Regions from separate parts of the Homo sapiens genome. Here region 2 is linked to region 1. The links come from fine-mapping of genetic effects on plasma protein levels. Region 1 holds a variant in brackets. A gene starts in the other region. All regions are shown on their reverse strands.

Region 1 (8,338 bases):
CGGTGAGCCGAGATCGCGCCAATGCACTCCAGCCTAGGGAACAAGAGCGAAACTCCATCTCAAAAAAAAAAAAAAAAAAAAATCTGGGAGCACAGAGAGCTCTCCTGGTGTTGGGGGACCAACAAGGTGGAATCAAGAGCCACAGACCAGGGCCCAAGTCCCAGCGGTAACTGAGTATTATGGGGGTATTAACGCCCACCGCCCACCGCCCAGGATAGGGAGCACAGAGCAGAGAATTCTAAGCATTCAAGCCCTGAAACGCCCACTTCCTCTACCTGAGTCGCTGCTGTCCTCTAGTGTCCACTGGATAAATTGCACAGCACGCTGGCCTGAAGAAGGGGAAGTGGGAGATGCTTTTCCCCCACTTCTGAATCTATCTGATGCTGTGGTTCTCAACCATGCCCACCCATAACTTCCTTTTCATAAAATATATTTTGTATAATTACAGTAATTTTTAAACATTTTAGGCAGATGTATTGAGGTATTGACATATAATAAACTGTGCATATATAGAGATTACAATTTGGTAACATCTGACCCTTGGTATACACCTGAAATCATTATCACAATCAAGATAGTGAAGATATCCGTTCCCACAAAAAGTTTCCTTGTTGCCCTTGGTGATCCTGCTTCCTGCTCTTTCTACCTCCCCACCCCCAAGCAACTACTGATCTGCTCTCTTTTTTTCTTTTCTTTCGTTTTTATTTTATTTATTTATTTTTTTAAGATGGAGTCTTGCTCTGTCTCCCAGGCTGGAGTGCAGTGGCATGATCTTGGCTCACTGCAACCTCCACCTCCTGGGTTCGAGTGATTTTTGTGCCTCAGCCTCCCGAGTAGCTGGGATTACAGGTGCGTGCCAACAGGCCTGGCTAATTTTTATATTTTTAGTAGAGACAGGGTTTCACTTTGTTGACCAGGCTGGTCTCGAACTCCTCACCTCAAGTGATTCGCCCACCTCAGCCTCCTAAAGTGCTGGGATTACAGGTGTGAGCCACTGTACCCTGCCCTGATCTGCTTTCTATCATCATAGGTTAGTTTATATTTTCTAGTGCTTTCTAGAAATGGAATCATACAGTGTGTACTCTTTTTTGTCAAGCTTCTTTCACTCAGTATAATTATTTTGAGTTTTATCCATGTTGTTTTGTGTGGCAATAGTTCATTACTTTTTAAAATTTTAGTTGTAGTTTTTGTGGGTACATAGTAAGTGTATATATTTATGGGGCACCTGAGATGTTTTGATACAGGCATACAATACATAATAAAGACATCATGGAGAATGGGGTATCCATCCCCTCAAGCATTTACCCTTTGTGTTAAATATTTCATGGCAAAGTTATCTTGGGGTAAACACTGCAGCTGCAGGTGCCACCAGTGAGTATTCTCTGGGCAAACAGAAAAAGGGTTAAACAAATCACATTACACATTACTCTAAAATTTGTATCTATGTCTAGCCCTCAGACAAACCATGATGCCTGTTCTTTACATTGGTGGTCACTGAATGCTAGAATTATGAATTTAAAATTAATAAAAATTAATCAAGTTTTCAAAAATCAAAATAAAATGGATTTATTTCAATCATTTTGACGTAAAAATTTGACTAATTCTAATTTGTATGTTGCCTTTTGGTTTAATGGATACTTTTCAATAGTTGAAAAGAAAACTAACTTTTGGGAAAATATTCCTGATAAAATTAAATTTTTTACATAAACATAATTTTGATGAAAATATTAAGATATTTGTACTTTGAATATGATTGTTTTAATCCTTACATGTATTTTCAAATCTTGATAATAATAACATAATTACCGATTTTGCTGAAAGATAAGAAAAATACATTTCATGGAATAGTTTCAGTAATTTATAAATTCCACATCTTTATTACTCATCCCAATATTGTCAGCCCATCAACAGAGCACCCAGACATGCGCAATAAACATGAAATTTCATGATCTTTGACATTTTGCTAACTTTCTGTCATATACAAATCATAGCTTCATATATATTTTAAAATTTTATCCTTTTAAAGGCATATTTGTCAGAGGATGAGGATAGGACATACTTTAACATACATAACATAACATAATCGGCCGGGCGTGGTGGCTCACGCCTGTAATCCTAGCACTTTGGGAGGCCGAGGCAGGCAGATTGCCTGAGCTCAGGAGCTCAAGACCAGCCTGGGCAACAAGGTGAAACCCTGTCGCTACTAAAATACAAAAAAAAATTAGCCAGGCATGGTGGCATGCACCTGTAGTCCCAGCTACTCGGGAGGCTGAGGCAGAATTGCTTGAACCCAGGAGGCAGAGGTTGCAGTGAGCCGAGATCACTCCAGAGTGAGACTCCATCTCTAAAAAAAAAAAAATACAAATCATAGCTTCATACACATTTTAAAATTTTATCCTTTTAAAGGAATATTTGTCAGAGTATGAGGGTAGGACATACTTTAACAGTCTGTTAGTTTAATTTATAACTTGCAAATATTGAGACAGATGGCCTATGGTATCCATCTGTCCTCTTGCCCTGAGCTGACTTGACTCATGGGTCCCAGCTTGGGTTTTCCAGTTGTTTGAATGGGTAGGAATCTACCCATGTTTGCCACAGCTAGGGGGCTGGAGGTGGAGGGTCCCTCTGGACCCCCTTTGAATGACCATAACTTCAGAGCCTATCAAAGAGACTAAATATTCTGCAGCCCAGCAGGAGGTCCCAACCCAGCCTCCAGAGGGAGTGGAAACTTCTGCAAACCAACAGGATTAAACTGAGGCTCATGTGACTTCCTTGGGAGACCATCCTCTCTCAGATCTTAAGTTTCAGAGATCAAATTTCCAAGCATGTGGTCCTTGGCTATGGAAACCTTTCCTCCTGCCCAGGACTCTCACTCTACAGAGACGAGTTCATTCAGGTCATCTGAAGCCCATGTAGATTTTTGGCCACAAATGGTTTCTCATAAAGTGGTGCCCCCAGCATGTTCAGCCTCCCCTCTGCCCCTGCAGGCCTTCTATCCCAGGGTGCCATGCACTGCTGCCCTGCTGGGAAGAGAAGTCTGGAGGGGCACGGGGCAGCACTGCCCACTCAGAAGCCCCTTGTCCTATTTTTCTGTCAGATCCTGCCTCCCTGTTTCAGAGGGAAGAGTGGGCCGTCAGTAACAAGATGTTTTCTCCCTTGCCTCTTTTTTGCTACAGTTGGTAGAAATTTCTCCCAGACTTCCTCGGTGACTAATGATGTTGGGATGTTGTGGCCTTCACAGGGAGGGGACAGGGTGTCAGGTCACCATATCACAGATGGTTGACCCCATGCCGACTACAACTGGCTCTTTTGGCTGCAAGTGACAGAAACCCAACTCAAACTTGTTCTGTGAGTGGGGACATTTATTGAATCTCAGAATTGAAGGGAGGGGAAGGGTGTGTTTGGGTCCCAGAAAGGGTGGACCCTGGGGCTGGAATCCCGTCCAGACTCCGCTCCCTCTTCACGGAGGCTTAGCACCTTAGATGGGCTATGTCCTCTGGCCCTGCACACATGGGCTTCCTGTTGGAAGCTGAGCAGCTCCACCAGCTTCCGTTTACAAATATAGTGACTGGCACACAAGCATTCCTATGCTTATGGGGGGTGGTGGGGGGCAGGACCCCAGGACTGGCAGCCCCCACTAAAACCCCATGAGGGAAGGAGTCCCCCCAAAGGTGGTGCTGTTCCCAAAAATGAAGGAAACAGCCAGTGCTCTCCACCCTATCCCACCCGGCCATTTTCCTCACAGATGTCACCTGTCCTCCCAGGCCCAGCTGCTACTTCTGCCTGATGCTTGGCCAATTTGCCTGGTTAAAACCAGTGTATTTCCAGGAGATGGATGACGTCACAGAACTGGGGTTCCAGAAGCCTTCTTTAGAACATGGAGAGCTGTTAGTTGGGCAGGGCTGAAGTGTATGTGGTGAGGAAGAAGAGGCTCCTACTGTAGACAGCCTTGTTCTACAGATCCTCCCAGAAATCTCTGGGCCAGGTGGAACCCAGGGTCAGAGAGGGATGGGAGAGAGGTAAGCTGTGGAAGGGGTGGGAACATACCTTCTGGAGCCACTGTCTTCCTTGAGGGGACCCTGAGAGGGGGCTTAATGGGCAGGGATGGAGCTTCCTGCTTCCCGAGGCTCAGTGACATCTATCTCTGAGGGACCCTCCTGAGTCAGTGTGGAGTAGGTTGTTTGTCTGAAATTCTAATTTAACAGGGCATCTTGTAAATTTTATTTGCCAAATCTGTCAGCTCTGGGGGTAGAATGATGGGAGAAGCAAAAGAATGGCCCGAAGCTCAGGCTGGTGTGGAACGAGTCTCAGATAGAACAAGAGACAGAAGCAGCCTCATTGTCTGAAGTAAATACCAAGGTTCGTGGTCTCACGTTTAAGGAGATCGAGGTCGCAGACACACACGCACACAGAGTGAGTTTGGAGCAGGAGTTTAATAGGCAAAAGGAAAGAACAGCTCTCTGTCACAGACAGAGGTCCCAGGCAGGTTGCCAGGTGGTAGTAAAAACGTCAGGGTTTTATAAATGGGCTAGAGAGGGGCATTCATGAGGAGGGGATGTCTTATCCTCCTAGAGCCCGATGGTTCAGTTGGGACCAGGTGTGCTATCTGTATAGAGCAGAGTTTTTAATAGGCTCTCACCCCATTCCCGACCACATCAACTTTTAGTCTGTGTCTCTTTGTCTTGCTTATCTGGGAGCGAGAGTTTCTGTGTCTATTCCCACACATCTTGCAGCTGTAGGCATACCCATCGATTCTGCTTTTAGCTTCCCTATCTTAGCG[C/T]GCCTAAAGAGAAAGGAATGTAGTTATTAAGGCCCACTGTTTTACTGGGGCCCATTGTATAAGTGTGAAGTTTGGTGATTACCCAGGAGACTTCCCCCATCCTTCTGTGCCTGAGCTCTTATCTGTTTTTACCCTTTGCTCTTTCAGGCTGGTTGTTGTTAGAAGAAAAGTGATTTCCTTGAACTGCGTGAGGTTAGAAAGGGAGCTATCTTTGAGCTGCTTTGCGTTAAAAGGAAAGTTTTCTGCTGGGGATTCACTTTACCCTAACTGTCTACCTAAGTAGTTTCTTTCTGCCTCCTATAACAAGACCAGAGAAGAAACAAGCCCACCAGGGTAGCCATCTTGTCCAAGCAGAAGCCGCCTGACACTTGAAGGCGGCGGGTGGAAGAACTCAGGCTTCTGCCCCCTCAGCAGCATATACCTAAGTTAAGGGGAAAAACACACCTTCCCTCAGTGACAGAAATAGTCCCAGGTTTTCAGATTTATTGGAAGTATTATTTCTTTTTAGTGTAGAGATGAGGTCTTGCTGTTTCCCAGGTTGGTCTCAAACTCCTGGCCTAAGCAATTCTCTCACCTCAGCCTCCCAAAGTGCTCGGATTACAGGCATGAGCCACCATGCCTGGCCAGTCTTTCAGTTTTCATGGCATTGGCCATTTTGAAGAATACAGGCCAGTTATCTTACAGATTTTCAGTGAGTTTGGCTTTGATGTTTCCTCAGGATTAGACATAGCCTATGCATCCCTGGACGGAATATTGCATAAGCGATGTGTCCTCCTTGGGAATCACATCTGGAGGCACACAATGTCCCTCTGTCCGTCTTTGGAGATGTTAATTTTGATTGCAAGGTCAAAATACTGTCTGGTTATCCACTGTATACTGTTTTGTTTTTTCTTTCTGTGCAACTAATAAGCAATCTGTGGGGAGACCCTATAAGATCATGATATATCCAGTTCTTCAGCATTCTTCCCACCACCTCAGATTTAGCATGCAATGATGATTTGTTCTCAAACCAATCTATGATAGTTGCAAAATGGTGATTATTTTTCAACTCCATGACTTCCTCCACACTTATCGGTTGGCCTTTTATTGTCAGGAAGAGGTCTCTGCTTCAGCTCCACACAATGTATCTTTTTGTCAATTTATTATTATTATGGGCTCATGGATTCCTATTGCATTTAATGTATAATCTGTTACTGTCATTTATTCTGATGGTCTAATTGTCCCAGATTGGGTTGGAAACCATTATGCAATGGTTTCTTAGATATGACACCAAAAGCACACCCAACAAAAGGACAAATAGATAACTTGCACATCATCAAAATTAAAAACTTTGGGGCTTCAAAGAACACCACCAAGAAAGTGAAAGGCAACCCACAGAATGGGAAAAAAATATCTGCCATATATCTGATGCTGGTCTAGTATACAGAATATATAAAGAACTCTTCCCACTCAGTAATAAAAAGACAACTCAATTTGAAACTGGCCAAAGGTTCTGAATAGACATTTTCCCAAAGATATACAGTGGCCAATAAGCACATAAAAAGATGATCAACATCCGTAGCCATCTGGGAAACGCAAATTAAAACAACAGGGTGATACCAGTTCATACCCACTAGGATACCTTTTGTCAAGAAGACAGATAATAACAAGTGTTGGTGAGGATGTAGAGAAATTGGAACCTTCATACACTGCTGATGGGAATGCAAAATGGTGCAGCCACTTTGGAAATCTGGTAGGCCTCATAAGCTTAAGCCTAGGGTTACCCCATGACCCAGCAACTCTACTCCAAAGAAATAAAAACATATATCCACACAAAAACTAGTATGTTAATGTTCATAGTAGGATTATTCATGATAGCCAAAAATAGAAACAACCCAAATGTCCATCAACTAATGAATGGATAGACGAAGTATGGTGTATTCATACAATGAAATATTATTCAACCATAGAAAGGAATGAAGTATCATTACATGCTCCAACCTGAATGAAACTTCAAAACATTATGCTAAGTGAAAGAAGCCAGATACAAAATGCCATATTTTCTGTAACTCCGTGTGTATGAAATGTCCAGAAGAGGCAAATCCATAGAGACAGAAAGTAGATTAGTGGTTGCCAGGGGTTGGGAGGTGGGGGATGGGCAGTGACTGCTAAATGGGTGCAGGGTTTTGTTTTGGATTGATGAAAATATTCTAAAATCAAGTGAGGTAGTAGTTGTACAACTCTGCAAACATACTGAAAACCACTGAATTGTACACTTTAACTGAATTAATTGTATGATACATGAATTATATCTCAATAATGCTGTTACCAAAAAACATCGTTTCAGATCTGGCCAGTCGGTGCCCCTTTGAGCTAGCTCTTGTGTCCATTTGACATGCCCCAATACATATTTCGAGCACTTTTTAAATTTCTTGTACAGCAAGATAATCCAGACATCTCATAACCCTTTCCTGCTCCAGCCTGGGAATCAGCCATATTTCCTAGAGTCCTGGTTCCCTTTTGTGTGGAATGTGAACCAAGATCTGGGCATTATTTCATTTAATCATCAAAACAACCCTTTTAGGTAGGTATTAGCATATCTTCATTTTACAAATGAGGCCCAGAAAGGTTGAGTATGTTGCCCAAAGTCACATAGCACCCCAGGATTTGAAAGCAGGCAGTGTGAATCTAGGGCCCTTGCTATTCAACACACACACACGCGCACACACACATACACAATGTGAAAGTGAAGGTTACGTCTACAGCCAGCCCACCAAGAATTGTACCAGGCAGGGTATGCCCTTGGGAAAAATCATGTGTCATGTGTCTGGGGGAGTGGGGTTGTGGGGAGATTAGCACCCAGTGTCCTGGCCCTCTTTCTAAAAGCACATGCTCAGATACACACACACATATGCTGGTGAAGATAGTCTTCAGTAATCTCCTTTGCCAACCTCACTCCCCATCCCAATACCCAAATACTACCCATAGCTGGGTGCCCATATAAGAGGACCTATGGATGAAATGAGATTGGCCAGGTGTGGTGGCTCACACCTGTAATCCCAGCACTTTGGGAGGCTGAGATGGGAGGATCACTTGAGGCCAGGAGTTCAAGACCAGCCTGGTCAACAGAGTGAGACCCCCATCTCTAAAAAATAAAAAAATAAAAAACAAACAACAACAAAGAAAGATTGGCCTTGGTTTTTGAATGTTGAAGCTCAGAAGTGGGTATATGGAGGTTCATGATACTATTCTCTTTCCTTTTTTAAAGGTTTAATTTTCCATGATAAATAAAAATCTATAAAATAATAAACAAGAGAAAAGAGATTGGAAACAGCCAGGTTGGAGCAGTGAGTGAGTAAGGAAACCTGGCTGCCCTCTCCAGATTCCCCAGGCTCTCAGAGAAGATCAGCAGAAAGTCTGCAAGACCCTAAGAACCATCAGCCCTCAGCTGCACCTCCTCCCCTCCAAGGATGACAAAGGCGCTACTCATCTATTTGGTCAGCAGCTTTCTTGCCCTAAATCAGGCCAGCCTCATCAGTCGCTGTGACTTGGCCCAGGTGCTGCAGCTGGAGGACTTGG
Region 2 (8,338 bases), not on the chromosome of region 1:
AAATAGCATCTGACGTGACTTTCTATTTACAGAAGGGCACATGGGATGTGTTAATAACACCCTCCTTAGGGCTTTGGATGCTGAGGACAGGTCTAACAGCCAAGCTCTGAAGGGGTAGGCAGCCCTGATATTTATCTGCTGATTATCACACTAGGGTCCTCAAAAGGGAATTCCAGAAGCTTCTTTTGATAAAACCTCAAAATCATCAGATCTGCTGCTGCCAGAACCAAAAATAGCTCGGCCTAGTTGGGAAAGTATTGGTCTGGGAGTTGGATGGTGTGGGGGCCCTCGTTTTGTACTAACGGGCTTAGTGTCCTTGTAGGCACTGTGAGCGTCTCTGCATGTCCGTGCTGTCTTCTATGCATTGTGGATGATGGAGCAGCACCCCTGTCATCACGGGGTAGATAGGTGTCCCGAAAACGATGACAGCCATGAAAAGACTGGGTGAACACCAAGCCTCAATCCCAGGAGGGAGAGAAAGGGAGAGCCGTGATAAGAAAGCAGCCGCACTAGAAATGCTTCCCAGTTGCCCTTGTGGCAGGAATAAAATCCTCCTACACTCAGGTGTTTGGTGGTCAAGGAGTGGCCCTTTGGTGAGGAGGTAACTCACCAAAGGTTTCTGCTGCCTTTTAACTTGCTGTAAATTAGTCAGCCGTGCTCTCTCCTCATCTGCTTGACCTATGACTCTGTGGCCCATGACTGCCTCATTCCTGGTTAATGCAAGGAAGGGCCCAGTAGCAGCCAGAAATGTGAATGGCTATTCTCAAACATGGGAGGTTACCTACACCAGGATAAATAAAATGGTTGCCTTTCCTCTTTTACAATAGTCATTTTGTTCTTCTTTAAGATTTGAAAATATAGTAAGGCAGGTCCCAGAATAACATTGTTTCTTTCAATGTTGCTTTGTCATAATATTGGTGAGAAAAAAAAAAAAATCAATTCCTGGCTGGAGCCACTGTCTGTGTGGAATTTGCAAGTTCTCACGTGAGTTTTCTCCAGGTACTTCAGTTTCCTCCCACATCTCAAAGATATCCTCGTTCCTTGGTACGTCTGCATGGTTCCAGTCTTAGTGAGTGTGGCTGTGTGTGTGTGAGCGTGCCCGGCAATGGAATGGCCTTCTGTCCAGGGTCCCCAGCTTGAACTCTGAGCTGCCAGTATGGGCTCCAGCCACCCAACACTCTGAGTTGGAAAAAGCAGGTTGGAAAATGATTGAATAATGAACAAAAATTGTTATCAAATAAAAATTCATGAAGTCTACAATAATCATACAGGCATATGACAATAAATGATGCTGCATGGAAGCGTTCAGCGAGCCCATCATATTTGTTGTTGGGTTTTTTTGAATTGCATGGTGGTAGGAGGTGCTTATAATTTTTGCTTTAAAACATTTATTCCTTGCTTTAACCCACCACCACTATGACTGCTGTCACTCACTGATTCACCAAACATTGGGTAAATAATTCTCACACTTGTTTCTATTAATCTTTCTGAAATGTACGTATAGCTCACATTTATTTTCATATTTACCATTAGAAGCATTTTGGTCTTTCTTTAGAAGTTTAGTGATGTTTTTGTGACCAGAACTATGTCATAGGAATTTAAATAAATCTTAATTATGTCAATTAGCCTAAGGTAAAATTGGCTTCATTGTATGTTGTTTTGCTTAAAGTTGCAGTTTCCAAGAACATATAGATAATGTTAAATGGGGGCTTATTGTATAATTAAATAGTATTTATTGAGCTCTGACTACATGCTAGTCTGTGTTAATGTTTATTTATATTCTTTCATTTACTACCCATAATAATTCAGTGAAAATGTTACCAGAAAGAGGTTTCAATCCAGACCCCAAGAGAAGGTTCTTGGATCTCACGCAACAAAAAATTCCAGGCGAGTCCATAGAGTTAAGTAAAGCCAAGTTTATTCAGAAAGTAAAGGAATAAAAGAATGGCTACTCCACAGGCAGAGCAGCCTCAAGGGCTGCTGATTGCCTATCTTTATGGTTATTTCTTGATTATATGCTAAACAGGGTGTGGATTATTCATGAGTTTCCTGGGAAAGGAGTCGGCAATTTCTGGGAACCTAAGGGTTCCTCCCTTTTTTAGACCATATAGGGTAACTCCCTGATGTTGCCATGGCATTTATAAGCTGTCATGGTGCTGGTGGGAGTGTATTTTAGCATGTTAGCGCAATATAATTCACGTATAATGAGCAGTGAGTCCGACCAAGGTCACCACCTTGGTTTTGTTGGGATTTGACTGCCTTCTTTACCGCATGCTGTTTTATCAGCAAGGTCTTTGTGACCTGTATCTTATGCTGATCTCCTGTCTCATCCAGTGAGTTAGAATGCCTAACCTCCTCCAAACGCAGCCCAGTAGGTCTCAGTCCTATTTTACCCAGCCCCTATTCAAGATGGAATTGCTCTAGTTGAAATGCCTATGACAAAAAGGCATCATTATGCCCATTTTACAGGGAAGGAAACTTTCAGAGGGACTAAGTTACATGCCAAGCTCCCAAAAGTACTACATGCAGACCCAGGATTTGAACCCTGTTTTATTTTATACAAAACCCATCCCCCTGCATATTATGCCATTTTGTCTCAAAAACAATAATAGTACCCACAGAAAGAAGATGAAGAGGAAGAGCTGGGAGCACATATTTAACCAAAAATAAGAAGTCCATAGGTCTTGGACGAATACACTCCTACCAGCACTGGGCAGGCAGACAGAAGAGGGCCCAGATTAAATTAAAAAGTGTGTGATTAATTGGCAGCTAGTAAAGAACAAGATGAAATCCTTCAGAAAACAAATATATGAGTTTTGGTGAGCTGAAGAGATCTGTATCTGAAGTCAGAATATTTAATATACATCATATATAATTAATATTATTATTATTTAATGTTCTTTTAAAGGGTGACTGGGTCAGTATAACTGAGCATAATCTGTTTTGTCTCAGAGTCTGGCTATCTTTTTTCCCAATATCAGTCTCTCAACTAAACCAAACATGTTTTTAACTTCTCCCACTTAATTTAGTAGGTTAACAAGTCTATGTAAAAGAAGAGTATCATAATTTAGCTTAATAGTCCCTTGCAATACTATTTTAATATTTTAAAATCAAAATATCACTTTAAAACCTATAGGAATTATTTTTGCTTCCTTTGGCTTTGGTTCTTTTGTATCATACAATTTTATCATTTAAAATCAAAGATCTTACCATCAGATTTACCTGGGCTATAGTAGTAATTTTACCACTTACCCATGGCCAAATGTGTATGACAATCCCTACTTCATGAGATTATCATAAAGATGAAATTAAATGAGACAATTTTTTTTTTTTTTTTTTTTTTTTTTTTTGAGCTGGAGTCTTTCTCTGTCACCCAGGCTGGAGTCAGTGGTAAAATCTCTGCTCACTGCAACCTCCACCTCCCGGGTTCAAGCAATTCTCCTGCCTCAGCCTCCCGAGTAGCTGGGACTACAGGCGCCTCCCACCATGCCTGGCTAAATTTTGTATTTTTAGTAGAGACGGGGTTTCACCATGTTGGCCAGGCTGGTATCGAACTCCTGACCTCATGATCCACCCACCTTGGCCTCCCAAAGTGCTGGGATTACAGGCATGAGCCACCACGCCCAGCCCTAAATGAGACAATTTATGTGATTTTTTTGCACATGGGAGGCACTCAAAAAATAAAAGTGTCCATTTCCTTCACCTCTGAATTCATACTCTTTATTTTAAAGTTGCAGTGTCGTGTATACAGATGTAAAAGAGAGCTTTGGAATCAGTGAGGCCTGGATCCAAACCCCATCTCTGCTTTCCACCAGCTGTGCGACCTTGGGCAAATGTCCTAGTCTCTCTGAACCTCACTTTCTTCTTCTGTAAAAGGAAAATAATGGTACTACTTTGCAGGAATGCTGAGGTTTACAAATAGCATATGCCAAGTATCTGGCACATGTTAGGTGCAAAATAAATGGTTTTGCTTACACTTAGATAAAATGACTTTTGTTCTATGAAATGGAGCTAATGATTAGGTTTTATGGAAAGGCTTTATTTATTTATTTTATGATTAGGTTATACAAAAATGCTTTATTTCACCTGGAAGCTTACCTGGGTGTCATTTTATGGTTGTCTCATCTGACCATTTTTAAACCATGGTTGGATCTTGTGGAAATGTTTAGAGCTCGTTATGAAGCCAATGTAAACAAAGGTACCTATCAGCTGTTGCAGACACTATCCCATCCACAGGGGCACCCCTGACATAGCTGTAGCCCAACTTCACCCTGAAGTCTTGGAAAGGTTACATGATTCAGACAGATGTAGTAGGCATGAGATTACAGGCCAAGAGGAAGAGGCCGGGGCTGTAGGCAGTATACTTGACAGGCTCATACACTGCAAGCCTTGTTCCGGGCCCCTTACAAAGCACCTCTTTAGGATGAAAACAAGATGGTCTTTGTAAATAAAAGTTCATGCATTTGGGTAATGAAGTCATTTTCCAGCGCTGCAGTGAAAGATATTCTTCTCCCAAGCCCTCTGGGTGAGGACTGGAGGGAGGAAGAGGGGTGGCCAGTGAATCTGAAGAGAAGATATTAGCACAAAGAGTGCAACAGTCTATCCCCCAGAAAAAACCCGAGAAACCTTGCTCAAGAAAGTGGGCACCCTGACCCTCTGCCTTCAGAGATCATCTACCTTTGGTTCCTGCCCTGGAATCCCTTTTCCACCCACTTTCCTGCAAACTAGCGGGGGCCACATAAAATATCTATGTAAATATAGATAAGACATCCGGTACCTTGACTACATAAATAAGAGTGGTGAGGAAGCGTCACAAAAGCTGAATATTCTTCTGGAGCCCTTGGAGGGGCTCCAAACTGAGAGGGGAGGGAAGACCGCAGGGAAAGGCGGACCTCAGTGTCTGAAAAGCCAGCTTAGAGTGGGAGGGCCTGGGAGTAGAAGGTAAAAAGGGAGTGGTGAGAATGAATGTGAGAAGGAAGCCAGGACAGCGCAGTCCCCAGTCCCGAACGGCCAGGGAGAGGAGGTGGCCTAGCGCTGGCGGGGCTCACCCCAATCCGTCTGCCTTTTGATGCCGTACTGTAAGCTCCGTCCATCTGTAGGTTCTTGAGCCAGAACCTCTGCGGGAAGGAGAAAAAGTGAAAGAGGGAGAGGGAGAGGGAGAGAGAGGGGGAGAAGGGGAGAGAGAGAGAGGGAGAGAGAGGCTGGAACTCTCCCTTACTCTCGCACTTTCCCTTTATTTCCTAAGCTGCTGGTTGCGCAGCCACCTCGGGATACTGCACACGGAGAGGAGGGAAAATAAGCGAGGCACCGCCGCACCACGCGGGAGACCTACGGAGACCCACAGCGCCCGAGCCCTGGAAGAGCACTACTGGATGTCAGCGGAGAAATGGCTTTGAGCTCAGCCTGGCGCTCGGTTCTGCCTCTGTGGCTCCTCTGGAGCGCTGCCTGCTCCCGCGCCGCGTCCGGGGACGACAACGCTTTTCCTTTTGACATTGAAGGGAGCTCAGCGGTTGGCAGGCAAGACCCGCCTGAGACGAGCGAACCCCGCGTGGCTCTGGGACGCCTGCCGCCTGCGGCCGAGGTACAGTGTCCCTGCCATTGCCACCCTGCTGGGGCACCTGCGCCCCCGCGGGCTGTGCCACACTCGTCCTTCTCTCTCTCTCCGCCTCTTTCCTCTCCCCAGTGCCTTGAGAGTTTCACCTGGGCTAGGTCAGTTCGGAAACTTGAAATAAAGAGTTTTCCTTTGTAAGTTGCATTTGGATGTTGAGAGTTGAAAGTTGAGGCTTCGGAATGTGTCTGCTCAAAGGGGTGAGAGTGCATGTGTTGGTGCTCTGAGTTCATCCGCTAGACTCTCACCGGGGACTGCAGCAGCACATCGGTGACTTCTGCCACTTGCGTGTCCCAGTAGTCATTTTGTCAAGCCACGGCACTTAACGTGTGTGCCCTGTCACTGGCTTCCTGCTCCTCTGTGCTGTTAGGACAGTGGGAACACTACTGCAGGATCTTTTTGTCTCATATTAGACAAGAAGTCTTCTGCAGCAGGGAAGGTGAGGGGGTGAGTGAGAGTGGCTGGTCATGAAAGGAGCTGTTAGACAACTGCTGAGAGGGTATCTTAAGTAGAAACGAGCCATTGTATTCCAGAAACAAGATGTTTCCATTAAAATCAAGCCTCAGGATATGCTATTGATAATATGTTTATTCAAAGAGCTGCTGTTTGAATACCTTACAATAGCTTTTAAGTTGGAAACAAAACCAGAATGTAGAGGTCTGGTAAAGGAGAATGAATCCAGAACAAGTGATTTAAGAACCCCTGAACTGAAACAGACAACAGCATGCCCATTGCATGGGACATGCTAAGAGGGAGGAAAATAAAGTCACCTAAGTTCATGGGAAAGGAAGGAGCAATTGACCTAGCAAAACAAACACCACACTCTATAGCTATGGTTACAGCAACTGTACAACTAAAACAGTTATGTGGATTGACACCATTTCTAACATCACTGATGCATGGATTATTGCTATGAATTCTGTTAATTGTTAGTACAATTATAGTTATTAATTATTGATGATTAAAAATAAGGTGCATGAACATGGTCCTTCTTCAGAGTAAGCCCTACCCACATTGCCCCAAAAAAGAGAGTGGACAGGGTCAGAATATGCCAACCTCTCACTGTGGTATAAAATGTAGCCTCCATGAAAAAGAGGGAGCATGGCTTCTGGTCAACTTCATACCCAGAAACTTGGGGAGAAGCCAGACCAGGAGGGACTTCATGCAATGGGAAGGCTTTGCTTCTCTACAGGCTTGGAATTAACCCCAGGGAAGCATTATCTCCACCTGTTGCTTTGAGCACGTAAAGTCCCTGAATGAAATGCTTAATTTTACTTAAGAGTAAAATTGGCAGATAAATTGCAGGACACTCAAATGTGAATTTCAGATAAATAATGAATGAATTTTGATCACATCCCAAATACTGCAGAGGACATATTTATATTAAAATTTGTTTTCATTGTTCATCTGAAATTCAAATTTATCCGGGCATCCTGTATTTGTATCTGTTAGGTCTAAAGAGACAAGCCATATACAACTGTTTTTTGTAACTCTCATCCCACAAAAAAAATAGGAAAGTAATTTTTTGAGTTTTAGAGAACCTTAAAATTAATGCTAAGACCCTAGGAAATTTCTTATGTGCTCATATGTTTGGTGAAATAATAGGAAGGCAGCACAGCAAAGTGTTTCAGATTGCAGGTTTTCAGTCTGATGGTCCCAAGTTGAAATTTCAAGCTCTTTGACCTTGGTCAAGTTACAGATCCCCAGACTGCAGATAAACTGATACTGACAGAATTTATTGATGCCTGCTTCATACCTCATACTTTTATTGTAATGAAATTAGATAAAATAGAGTGCTTAGCATAGTGCTTGACATAGTATAAATGCCCTATATATGCCAAGAGTTGTTACAATTGTTACTATAAAAAATGTGGATGATGATCAGATTAAAAGAAACCCTTATTTGAGAATATTCCTTAGAACCTTATGTTTATGGTTTTCTTTTACTTAATATTATTATATCTGTTTATCTATATTCTTCCAGCTGGAAAAAAAATGTCACGTAGTGAATTAAATTTGTAGTAATGTCAGAGTCTAATAGGTTCAGAATGCCAGTGGAGGCCTTCAGTTTTGAAAAACAGAAAGAAGATATTAGTCATTCCAGGAAGGTCAAAGTATATGGTGTAGAAAGGGTGAGATTGAGGTAATTATGTTCCCACTGCATAGTTTCACATAATGCCTCCAGTTAGCCTGCGGTCCCATGGCGATCCCAACGCCCCACCATCAGGTTTCCCATGCTCTTTATAGCAGTAACCAGACCTTAAACCAAATACATTCCGGAGACTTAATAACATGGTACAAACACTTTACTGGGTTGGCTCAGGAGACTGTATTTGTGTATATGTGGAGAGAGAAAGAGAACACGGACACATTATTCATGGGAGAGGTTCAATGTGTGGATGGGAAGATATTCTAAAAATACATTCTCTTTACTTGGATTTATATGAATGGTTATTCTGCAATTCTCCTTCAGAGGGAATGAAGAAAAATATTAAGGCAAGCATGGAGCAGTGGGAGGTGCTTGGCTGAAGGCCTTCCTGAGGTTCTCCTAAGCTCTTCAATAGCCCAGCTTGTGGACTCTCCATCCCTGAGTACTTGGCCCAAGACACAAACTCTGGCATGCTGTATTGCTCCATGTGAGCTGGGGAACAAATACATGAAATATGCACGGAATAAAAGGATAGAGATTGTTGGCTGACCAAAAAGGAAGTCTCCTCTTTTCCTTGTAAA

Alleles and levels. Positions count from the first base shown, and alleles are read on the strand shown. Strength reflects both the effect of a copy and how common the allele is.
In carriers of allele T in region 1, the plasma level of the protein whose gene starts at base 4,970 in region 2 tends to be higher than with C alone (strong association).

The links. PIP is the chance, under the fine-mapping model, that this variant and not a neighbour inherited with it causes the effect. Protein levels are from antibody-based Olink assays in UK Biobank. Linkage for the fine-mapping came from a reference panel and not from the study's own genotypes, which makes the PIPs less certain.
Region 2: it holds the start of LAMA4, and the variant in region 1 is fine-mapped to the plasma level of the LAMA4 protein (UK Biobank, PIP above 0.99).

The regions. Positions count from the first base shown.
Region 1 is chr17:35,939,248-35,947,585 of GRCh38, reverse strand. LYZL6 (lysozyme like 6) reads left to right here and starts at 3,873. Exons shown (of 5, transcript NM_020426.4): 1 at 3,873-4,019; 2 at 8,028-8,338. The coding sequence starts at 8,230. The variant C/T (reference allele first, on the strand shown) is at 4,781.
Region 2 is chr6:112,251,199-112,259,536 of GRCh38, reverse strand. It overlaps LAMA4 (laminin subunit alpha 4), which reads left to right and starts at 4,970. Exons shown (of 39, transcript NM_001105206.3): 1 at 4,970-5,078; 2 at 5,246-5,581. The coding sequence starts at 5,387. The region is part of intron 2 of LAMA4-AS1 (LAMA4 antisense RNA 1); the gene reads right to left.